Linked DNA regions of Homo sapiens. The protein of the gene in region 1 purifies or fractionates together with the protein of each later gene. This does not show direct contact. Each region holds a gene or a part of one and is shown in the gene's direction. Other genes may lie near its edges.

Evidence for each region. Proteins that work in one complex are often made in the same cells at the same time.
Region 2: the proteins of CCDC7 (region 1) and YIPF1 fractionate together in Homo sapiens (co-fractionation; one large-scale study listed by BioGRID). This does not show direct contact.
Region 3: the proteins of CCDC7 (region 1) and ITGA5 fractionate together in Homo sapiens (co-fractionation; one large-scale study listed by BioGRID). This does not show direct contact.

Annotation. Positions count from the first base shown.
Region 1 is NC_000010.11:32,844,640-32,848,139, forward strand, and holds part of CCDC7 (uncharacterized protein C10orf68), read left to right. Parts: intron 1-603; coding exon 604-687; intron 688-903; coding exon 904-987; intron 988-1,236; coding exon 1,237-1,320; intron 1,321-1,736; coding exon 1,737-1,820; intron 1,821-3,193; coding exon 3,194-3,277; intron 3,278-3,500. UniProt on the Homo sapiens protein: May play a role in tumorigenesis.
Region 2 is NC_000001.11:53,876,298-53,879,797, reverse strand, and holds part of YIPF1 (protein YIPF1), read left to right. Parts: intron 1-1,075; coding exon 1,076-1,156; intron 1,157-1,395; coding exon 1,396-1,483; intron 1,484-3,500.
Region 3 is NC_000012.12:54,395,267-54,398,766, reverse strand, and holds part of ITGA5 (integrin alpha-5 precursor), read left to right. Parts: intron 1-68; coding exon 69-170; intron 171-1,279; coding exon 1,280-1,402; intron 1,403-2,390; coding exon 2,391-2,474; 3' UTR 2,475-3,500.

The DNA of each region.
Region 1 (3,500 bases):
TAAGAGATGCATTATATGGTAAAGTCAGTGGTTAAGGAATTATAAAGTGTCAGTTTGTACATCAATTTTGTCATTATCTTGATGTGGTCTTGTTCAAATCATGAAGCATCTCTGAACTTCAATATAATAGGCTTATATGAGTTCTAATAGCCCTTCAAATTCTGTTTTGTGATGCTTACTGCAATAAGACATGTTGTGACTCTTCTACTATAATAATAAAAACTCACATGTGCACTACACATGCACACACACACATAAAATGTTTACCTTATAAAATATATTGAAATCTGCTTTATTTCTATAGAGACTAATAAGGAACTCTTAGCAGATGCTATTGGAAGAGGTATAATAAAGGGGTCAATTAAAACACAATTTAAATGTCACCAAGGTAAAAAAAATTTTTTTCAAGACTAATATTTATGGTTTATTCATATTCCCGGAGTTAAATTAAGTATGAACCTTTAATGACAATAGTACCAATATGTTAGTATTATATAGGTGAAATTCTAAATGAATATCCTCCTATAATTAAACACATACACATACTCAGATTTGGTAATGTTTACCTTTCAAAATATATTGATATCTGTTTTATTTATATAGAGACTGATAAGGAACACTTAGCAGATGATACTGGAAGAGGTATAATAAAGGGATCAATCAATGCACAACTAAAGGGTCACCAAAGTAAGAAAAAGAATTTTTCACATCTAATATTTATGGCTGATTGATATTCCCTGAGTTAAATTAAGTATAGACCTTTAATAACAAAACTACCTATATTATAGTGTTACATAAGTAAAATTATTCATGAATATCCTCCTATAATTAAACACAAAAACACACACAAGTATGGTAATGATAATCTTACAAAATATACTGAAATCTGTTTTATTTCTATAGAGACTGATAAGAACTTCTTTGCCTATGCTACTGGAAGAGGTCTAATGAAGGAGTCAACCACGACACAATTAAAAAGTCACCCAGGTAAGAGAAAACAATTTCAAGACTAATATTTATGGTTTATTTATATTCCTGGAGTTAAATTAAGTGTGGACATTTAATGGCAATAGTACCTATATGTTGGTATTACACAGGTAAAATTCTTCATGAATACCCTTCCATAATTACACACACACACACACACACACACACATACACACACACACAGATACACACAGAGGTATGGTAATGTTTACCTTATAAAATATATTGAAATCTGTTTTATTTCAATAGAGACTGATAAGGAATTCTTGGCAGATGCTATTGGAAGAGGTATAATAATAGGGCCAATCACTACACAACTGAAGAGTCACCGAGGTAAGAGAAAGAATTTTTCAAGTCTAATATTTAGGCTTATTTATATTCCCTGAGTTAAATTGAAGTATAGACCTTTAATGACAACAGTACCTGTATCATAGTACTTTCCATAGCAAAAGATGCTATTGGAAGACATATAATAAAGGGACTATCAATGCACAATTAAAGAGTCACCAGGGTAAGAAAAAGAATTTTTGAGTCTAATATTTGTGACCTATTTATGTTCCCTGAGTTAAGTATAGACCTTTAATGACAACAGTGTCTACATGTTATTATTACATAGGTACCTATATCATAGTGTTACATTGGTGAAATTCTTCATGAATATCCTTCTATAATTAGTTAAACACACACGTATACACATGTATGGTAATGTTTACCTTATAAAGTATTTTGAAATCTGTTTAATTCTATAGAGACTGATAAAGAACTCTTAAAAGATGCTATTGGAAGAGATATAATAAAGGGACCAATCAGTGCACAATTAAAGAGTCACCAGGGTAAGAAAAATAATTTTTGAGTCTAATATTTGTGACCTATTTATGTTCCCTGAGTTAAATTAAGTATAGACATTTAATGACAATAGTGCCTACATGTTAGTGTTACATAGGTAAAATTCATCATGAATATCCTTTAATTAAGCTCTAGCATTTACTATCAGTGGAACATTAGCATATTATTGGTTTTAAAACTCATCCATTTGAAAAGTAATGCATAAAAATTCAGTGTTACAGTTACCTTAGAGTAGTCTCAATGTAGGCATTTCCAAAGCTATTCTACTTACTTTTGTTTCTGAAAAGTGATATTTAATTAGCAAAAGCAGAAAGGCAAAAGCACAAAGGCTAGCTGAAGACTGCGATGACAAGAGGAGTATAACACATAATTATTTCACTGGTTATCCATTCCTTCTATTTGATAAAAATGTCAGGCAAATTTATAAAATCTCACCTGCAATACAGTACTTTATTTGTGTTACATAATTCAGAGATTACATTACTGGCTTTCATCTTGGTGTAAGGGTGTTATGTAGTTATACAATTTTCTTTATCTCTGGTGTGATACAAAAAGAGGCAGACAGCTTAACAGAGAAATAAGGTAAAGAGACACATTCGAAGCCGGCCCTCTAAAACCAATGTTATCCAAGGTACTGGATGCATGTTCAAGGCTCTGCCCCTTGGAGAGCAGCAGTAGCACTTCACACTACAGGCAAGAGACTTTAGTACAATAGCCCAGTCACATCGCTATGCAAATAAATAAGGAGAGAACAATGACAAGCCCCAGATAGAGGAGGAGGAAATCAGTACCTGGAGATGCTACAATATACTACGGAAACTGTCAAAACTTGAGCAAAAATTATTAACATGCAAAGAAACAGTGAAGTGTGACCTACACCAAGGAAAAGGGCATGCCACAATAACTGTTTGTGAGAGTTCCAGGTGTTGGACCTAGCCAACGAAACCTCAAAGCACTTATTATAAGTGTGTTCTTAGAGTTAAAGGAAATTATTCTTAAGGAAGAAAAGGAAGGTAACAGAGATATCAGCAAATAATATAGAAATTTCAAAAGACAACACAGCAAAACCCTATCTCTACAAAAAATACAAAAATTAGCCAGGCATGGTGGTGCACACCTGTAGTCCCAGCTACTTGGAGAGGCCAAGGCGGGGGACCACTTGAGCCCAGGAGGTTGAAACTGCAGTCAGCCATGTTCACACCTCTGCACTCCAGCCTGAGTGACAGAACAAGATCCTGTCTCTAAAAAAAAAAAGGAAAAGAAAAGAAAAAGAAATTTCAAAAGAAAAAAGAACTAAAATACATGTGTAACATAAATGGTTACCTTAAAAAGTGTTTTGAAATGTGTTTTATGTCTATAGAGACTGATGTAGAACCCTTGACAAATGCCATTGGTTCAAGTAAAACAATTGGTGAGATAAAGACACAACTAAGGACTCACTATGGTAAGAATAATAATTTTAAGTCTAATATTTACAGTTTATCTTCTCTGGGGTTTAAGTATGAATCTTTAATGATAACAGTACCTATATGTTAATATTTCATGGGCAAATGTCTTCATGAATTTTCTCATATAATTAGTTAAACTCTCGTATTATCAATGGGAAATTAGCTAGAAAGTTTTAAAACCTCTAGACAATGATTTTAAAAAATATGAGGTTTATAATT
Region 2 (3,500 bases), on another chromosome or scaffold:
ACCGCTTTCACTCCTCTCTGTGAGTGCTGCAGACCACAGCTACTTCTAATCGGCCATCCGTTTTCCTTTATAATGAACAAAAAATATCTGCCTATAGCACCTGCCCTTGTCCTGCAAAGCAGCTCAGTGTTCACCGTACTTTTTGCTGTATGAATTCCCTTCGGATATCTGAAGATGACAGGCACAATTCCTGGCATTGGGCATGCATTCTGCCACCAAAGAGCTGTGTTGTTGGGATGGGTATGGCCCTCCTCAGGTGCCTCTTCTCAATAGGATTTTTTTTTTTGTCAGAGTAGTAATATTTTTAGTACTTTAGAGTGAGTCAATATATCAGATTTTTGAGAATTCAGGTGGCAATAGTAGGGAGGATTGTGGATGGATGGGGGAGGAAGAGATATTTACACTGCTGGATGCAGTGGCTCACGCTTGTAATCCCCGTGCTTTGGGAGGCTGAGGCGGGAGTATCACTTGAGCCCAAGAGTTTGAGACCAGCCTGGGCAAAATAATGAGACTCTGTCTCTACAAAAATTAAACAATTAGCTGGGCATAGTGGTGTACGCGTGTAGTCCCAGCTGCTTGGGAAGCTGAGGTGGGAAGATTGTTTGAGCCCAGGAGTTCAAGGCTGCAGTGAGCTATGATTGCACTACTGCACTCCAGCTTGGGAAAGAGAGTGAGACGCCATCTCAAAAAAAAAAAGCGAAAAGATATTTACACTGACTGCCTTCTGTATGTGTTGTATGTGTGTATATGTATTTATTATTGTACATAATTCTATATACTGTTGAATCTAGATAAGGGAACTAAGCCCAGCAGGAGTCTAGTGATTTGCCAAAGCTCCCCTCAGTGGAGGGGCCAGGATTTGAACCCTTTTGGTGTGACTTCAAAACCAATGCTTGTTTTTCTAATCAGGCTGAGAGTTGCGAATTGGCTATTTCAGAGTTGGTTATTGAATGTGGAAGAGCCTATTGTTTCAAACGTTTTGCTTTTCCATTAGATCAGATCCCTCCTGCACCCCACGCAGCTGGAATTAAGAAATTGCTTATGTGTTCATTATGTTTTATTTTATTTCTGACAGTTACTTGCTGGACAGAAGAAAAGCTCCCCCTTCTGGACATTTGAATACTACCAAACATTCTTTGATGTGGACACCTACCAGGTTTGGAAACCAATTTCACCTTTCCTTTTACGGGTAAAGGAGACTTGTTTCTTTAATGGTTGAACAACCAAATAATGTGAAAGCCTTTATATACTGAAAATGGTCTTACAAAAGTAAAGGGTTATTAGCATTTGAAAATACTATCATAAAAGCTCTAATGACTGAGTTTCAATTTTGTAGTAGTTGAATTTATTAAACTTAAAAAACTTCAGTAGAATTACTGCTATGATGTTTTCCAGGTCTTTGACAGAATTAAAGGATCTCTTTTGCCAATACCCGGGAAAAACTTTGTGAGGTTATATATCCGCAGCAATCCAGATCTCTATGGTATGTTTAGTACTGATTTGTTTACCGTATTTCAGTTGAACTTGGGTGAGTGTGAGGGTTGCCTGGAAATGTGGAGAACTGCACTATTGGTGGGGCATGCCATGTATTATTAGACTTTTCTGAACTTCAGTAGCAACCCTTGCAAGTAATTTTGGAGGAATACAATTATGTGTTATATTAGTGCCACGTCATCATTACAAGTACTAGTATATCCTTCAAAGGTCTTTAAATGGGGCTGAGCGCAGTGGCTCATGCCTATAATCCCAGCACTTTGGAAGGCTAAGATGGGAGGATTGCCAGAGGCTAGGAGTTTGAGACCAGTCTGGGCAACATAGCAAGACCCTGTCTCTACTAAAGGCTGGGTTGGCACAGTGGCTGCCGCCTGTAATCCCAACACTTTGGGAGGCCAAGGCAGGAGGATTGCTTGAGCCCAAGGAGTTTGAGACCAGCCTGGGCAACATAAGGAGACCCTATCTCTACTAAAAAATAAAAATAAAAAGAATGATTTTTAAAAATTCTTCAAATAACTTTACAACTTGAGACAAATTTAGTCACTTTGACTAGGTGGAGATTGGACCATTTGATGTTGGAGGAGAAGGTATTCTCACACTTTTTCATTGATATGCTGAGTTCCAGCTCTGCCCTCAGATGAGCTGGCTCCTTTTAGGATTTGGTCACCAGCAGTGGAAGTCTAAAACAGGATTGGGCCGGGGATTGTTGTCATCCCTGACCTTAATGCTGTCTGAGAAAAACTCAGAGGTCCACCCAGTACTCCTGAGGAAAAGGCCCCAACAGTGGCCTGTGTTTGAGGGGAGAAGAGAGTGCTGTCCGTGTGCCAGGTGCTGTACCAAAGACTGTGTGTGTACTTGATCATATCTCATTCTTGCAACAACCCTTGCAAAGTATCCCCACTTTTCAAATGAGGAAGCTGATGCTCAGTGAGGATCATTGATATATATGCTCAATCAGAAATGATAAATAGTAAAGCAGTCATATATGTTGATTTTAAATATGGACTCTAGGGAGCCTGGTGTGAAAACCATTGCACTGGCCCATGCTTTTCATCTGAGGGTTGTCAGGGTGGTTTCTCTGTCTCATTCATTCTTACTTGTAGCCTGAGAACATCCTGAGGGGCAGGCTCTGTGCCTCAGTGTCTTTAGTGCCTGGCAGAGGCCTTGGCACACAGCAGGTGCTCAAACAATTTTTAGCACCTTATTTTATGCTAGACTCTGTGCTAGAGGCTGAGGATTTAAAGATAAGGCCATGGTCCCTAGCCCCAATGAGGAAGAAGAGAGAACACTAACATCTGTTGAATACCTTATAAGTGCCAAGCGTGGAGATAAGCACTATTTTAGTATTTTATGCTATTTTATTTCCCATACTCCAAGGTAGCCTTATCTTACAAAAGAGAAAACTGAGATTAAGGAGATAACTTGCCCGTAGTTACAGAGTTAGCAATAATAATGGCAAACACACATATAATGCTTATTATGTGCCAGACACTATTATTAGGGCAGTACCTGTATTAACTCATTTAATCCTTATGCCAGATCCAACTTCATGAGGGAGATACTATTATTATCCCCATTTTATAGATGAGGACACTGAGTCACACAGAGGTCCAGTAACTTGCCTGAGATTATACAGCTAGTAAGTGCTGGGCTCAATTTTCAAATCAACACTGTAGCTCATAATCCATTTCTTCATCACTATGCTATACTGCCTCTCATGACAAAGCCAGGGCTTGAATCCAAGGCTTGCTTCTTTTCTGTGACACTAGTAGCCTCATTAGCTCATAGACGTGGTTAAAAGAAGAAGGTACAATATAGGTGAAGTGTTTGATAGCAGAGAGGATTAGGTTTTGTTGTGGGTGGAGGTTAGAGGAAGGCAGTTAAGAAAAAGATGACAATTTACAGAGTGTAAGGAAAAGATTGATAACTTTGACTACATTTCACCTAAAATTTAAAATTTCTACACAACAAAATAAACCATAAGTAAAGTAAAAAAATAAACCACA
Region 3 (3,500 bases), on another chromosome or scaffold:
CGATGGGGAACCCTATGTCCTCTGGATCCCAAGAGAGGATGTGCTAACCAACTTTCCCCTACCCACAGCGGGAGCACCAGCCATTTAGCCTGCAGTGTGAGGCTGTGTACAAAGCCCTGAAGATGCCCTACCGAATCCTGCCTCGGCAGCTGCCCCAAAAAGAGCGTCAGGTGAGTCTAGGGCCAGAGGACTGGATGAGGGAATACAGGGCTCAGAGTGCTGGAACAGGGCTGGGACTTGGGTGAGGGCTGGCCTTGGTATTGTTAACAACTGTTGAGAATGTACTATGTGCCAAGCACTGTGCAGATGCCAGAGACAGAGTGGTAAGCAAGATCAACATGGTATCTTTGCTCCTGGTGTTCACAGTCTCGTGGAACAACACAGTGTTCCAAGTGTGGTGATATTTATGAAAACACATAATAGGAACACCTGAACCCAGTCTAACTGGGTCAGGGAAGGCTTCCTGGAAGAAGTGATGTTCAAGCTGAGACCTGAAGAATAAATAGGAACTAACCAGGCTAGCCATTCAGGAAAGGGATATCCTGGGGAGAGGTGAATAACAGATATGAGGCTGAGCGCAGTGGCTCACACCTGTAATCCCAGCACTTTGGAAGGCCAAGGCAAGTGGATTGCTTGAGCTCAGAAGTTCAAGATCAACCTGGGCAACATAGTGAGATCCTGTCTCTACAAAAAATACAAAAATTAGCCAGATGTGGTGGCGCATATCTGTGGTCCCAGCTACTCGGGAGGCTGAGGCAGGAGGATCGCTTGAGACCAGGATGCAGAGGTTGTAGTAAGCTGAGATCACACCACTGCACTCCAGCCTGAGTGACAGAGTGAGACTCTGTCAAAAAAAAAAAAAAATGGATATGATATGAAAGCCCGAAAGTAAGAGACAATATTGTACATTTTAGGAACTTCAATTTTTAAGTTCAGAATGCTGTTAGTTCAAAATAAGAGGTGGAGTTGATCTGGAACCCAGACTCAGACATTGGCACCTAATCCAGGCAGATCCAGGACTATATTTGGGCCTGCTCCAGACCTGATCCTGGAGGCCCAGTTCACCCTGATTTAGGAGAAGCCAGGAATTTCCCAGGACCCTGAAGGGGCCATGATGGCAACAGATCTGGAACCTCAGCCTGGCCAGACACAGGCCCTCCCTGTTCCCCAGAGAAAGGGGAGCCCACTGGGCTCTGCAGATCCAATGACAAGTGGGGGCCAAGTATAGGGTAGAAAGAACTTCTGAGCTTTCATTGACTTCACCCAACTTGCTCCCCAGGTGGCCACAGCTGTGCAATGGACCAAGGCAGAAGGCAGCTATGGCGTCCCACTGTGGATCATCATCCTAGCCATCCTGTTTGGCCTCCTGCTCCTAGGTCTACTCATCTACATCCTCTACAAGGTCAGCCACATCCTGCTTGTGACTTGGCCACCCTCTCATCAGGCTCTGCCCTTGACCTGGCACAGTCCCAAGTATCTACCTCTAGACCAGTTCACCAGCCATGTGCCCCCACCTCTGTCCTGGCTACATGCATCCCATCCTAACCCTTCCTATAAGATCCCCCCCTTCATTCTATAGCCCCTAGCTTAGAAAGGGTCCTCTTGACTCAAGATGATAAGTTTGCCTATACTTGCAAAATCATTGGAACCCAAAGATGACAAATACGTGGCATTTGTGCTGTCAATTTCTCCAAAAATCCATGGCAGCCATCACTAACCTAGAAATGGCTACTGATCATCTCCTAGAAGTGGCTTCAGAATCTCTCTCAAGAGGCAGCCATGGCCAGGTGTGGTGGCTCACACCTGTAATCCCAACATTTTGGGAGGCCAGGGTGGGAAGACAGCTTGAGCCCAGGAATTCAAGACCAGCCTGGGTAACACACTAGGACCTTGTCTCTACAAAAAAAACACAAAGATTAGCCAGGTTTGGTGGTGCGTGCCTATAGTCCCAGCTACTCTGGAGGCTGAGGTGGGAGGATCGCTTGAGCCCAGGAGTTTGAGGCTACAGTGAGCCATGATCATGCCACTGCACTCCAGGCTGGTCAACAGAGTGAGACCCTGTCTCAAAAACAAACAAACAAACAGAAGCAGCCACTACTAAGCAATCAGACTTGGCATTTGAGTTCAAACCTATCTGCCATTTCTGGCTTAACTGGGGAATTTTAAAGGCACTGGTAAAAGATACCCCCCATACAAAATCACCCCCAAGTTTGGTCCTCCTGGGTCCATTGCACAACTTAGAGGGGTAGTCCTAGCCTGAATTCAGAGGCCACTTTTGCAGGATGTAGAGGTTGGAGGCACTAGAGTCCTCCTTATTACTTCTTGGAATAAGAGCTGTGGAGAAATGGCAGCCATAGTACCTAAACTCTCCCTCTTTTCCCCTTTATCAGCTTGGATTCTTCAAACGCTCCCTCCCATATGGCACCGCCATGGAAAAAGCTCAGCTCAAGCCTCCAGCCACCTCTGATGCCTGAGTCCTCCCAATTTCAGACTCCCATTCCTGAAGAACCAGTCCCCCCACCCTCATTCTACTGAAAAGGAGGGGTCTGGGTACTTCTTGAAGGTGCTGACGGCCAGGGAGAAGCTCCTCTCCCCAGCCCAGAGACATACTTGAAGGGCCAGAGCCAGGGGGGTGAGGAGCTGGGGATCCCTCCCCCCCATGCACTGTGAAGGACCCTTGTTTACACATACCCTCTTCATGGATGGGGGAACTCAGATCCAGGGACAGAGGCCCCAGCCTCCCTGAAGCCTTTGCATTTTGGAGAGTTTCCTGAAACAACTTGGAAAGATAACTAGGAAATCCATTCACAGTTCTTTGGGCCAGACATGCCACAAGGACTTCCTGTCCAGCTCCAACCTGCAAAGATCTGTCCTCAGCCTTGCCAGAGATCCAAAAGAAGCCCCCAGCTAAGAACCTGGAACTTGGGGAGTTAAGACCTGGCAGCTCTGGACAGCCCCACCCTGGTGGGCCAACAAAGAACACTAACTATGCATGGTGCCCCAGGACCAGCTCAGGACAGATGCCACACAAGGATAGATGCTGGCCCAGGGCCCAGAGCCCAGCTCCAAGGGGAATCAGAACTCAAATGGGGCCAGATCCAGCCTGGGGTCTGGAGTTGATCTGGAACCCAGACTCAGACATTGGCACCTAATCCAGGCAGATCCAGGACTATATTTGGGCCTGCTCCAGACCTGATCCTGGAGGCCCAGTTCACCCTGATTTAGGAGAAGCCAGGAATTTCCCAGGACCCTGAAGGGGCCATGATGGCAACAGATCTGGAACCTCAGCCTGGCCAGACACAGGCCCTCCCTGTTCCCCAGAGAAAGGGGAGCCCACTGTCCTGGGCCTGCAGAATTTGGGTTCTGCCTGCCAGCTGCACTGATGCTGCCCCTCATCTCTCTGCCCAACCCTTCCCTCACCTTGGCACCAGACACCCAGGACTTATTTAAACTCTGTTGCAAGTGCAATAAATCTGACCCAGTGCCCCCACTGACCAGAA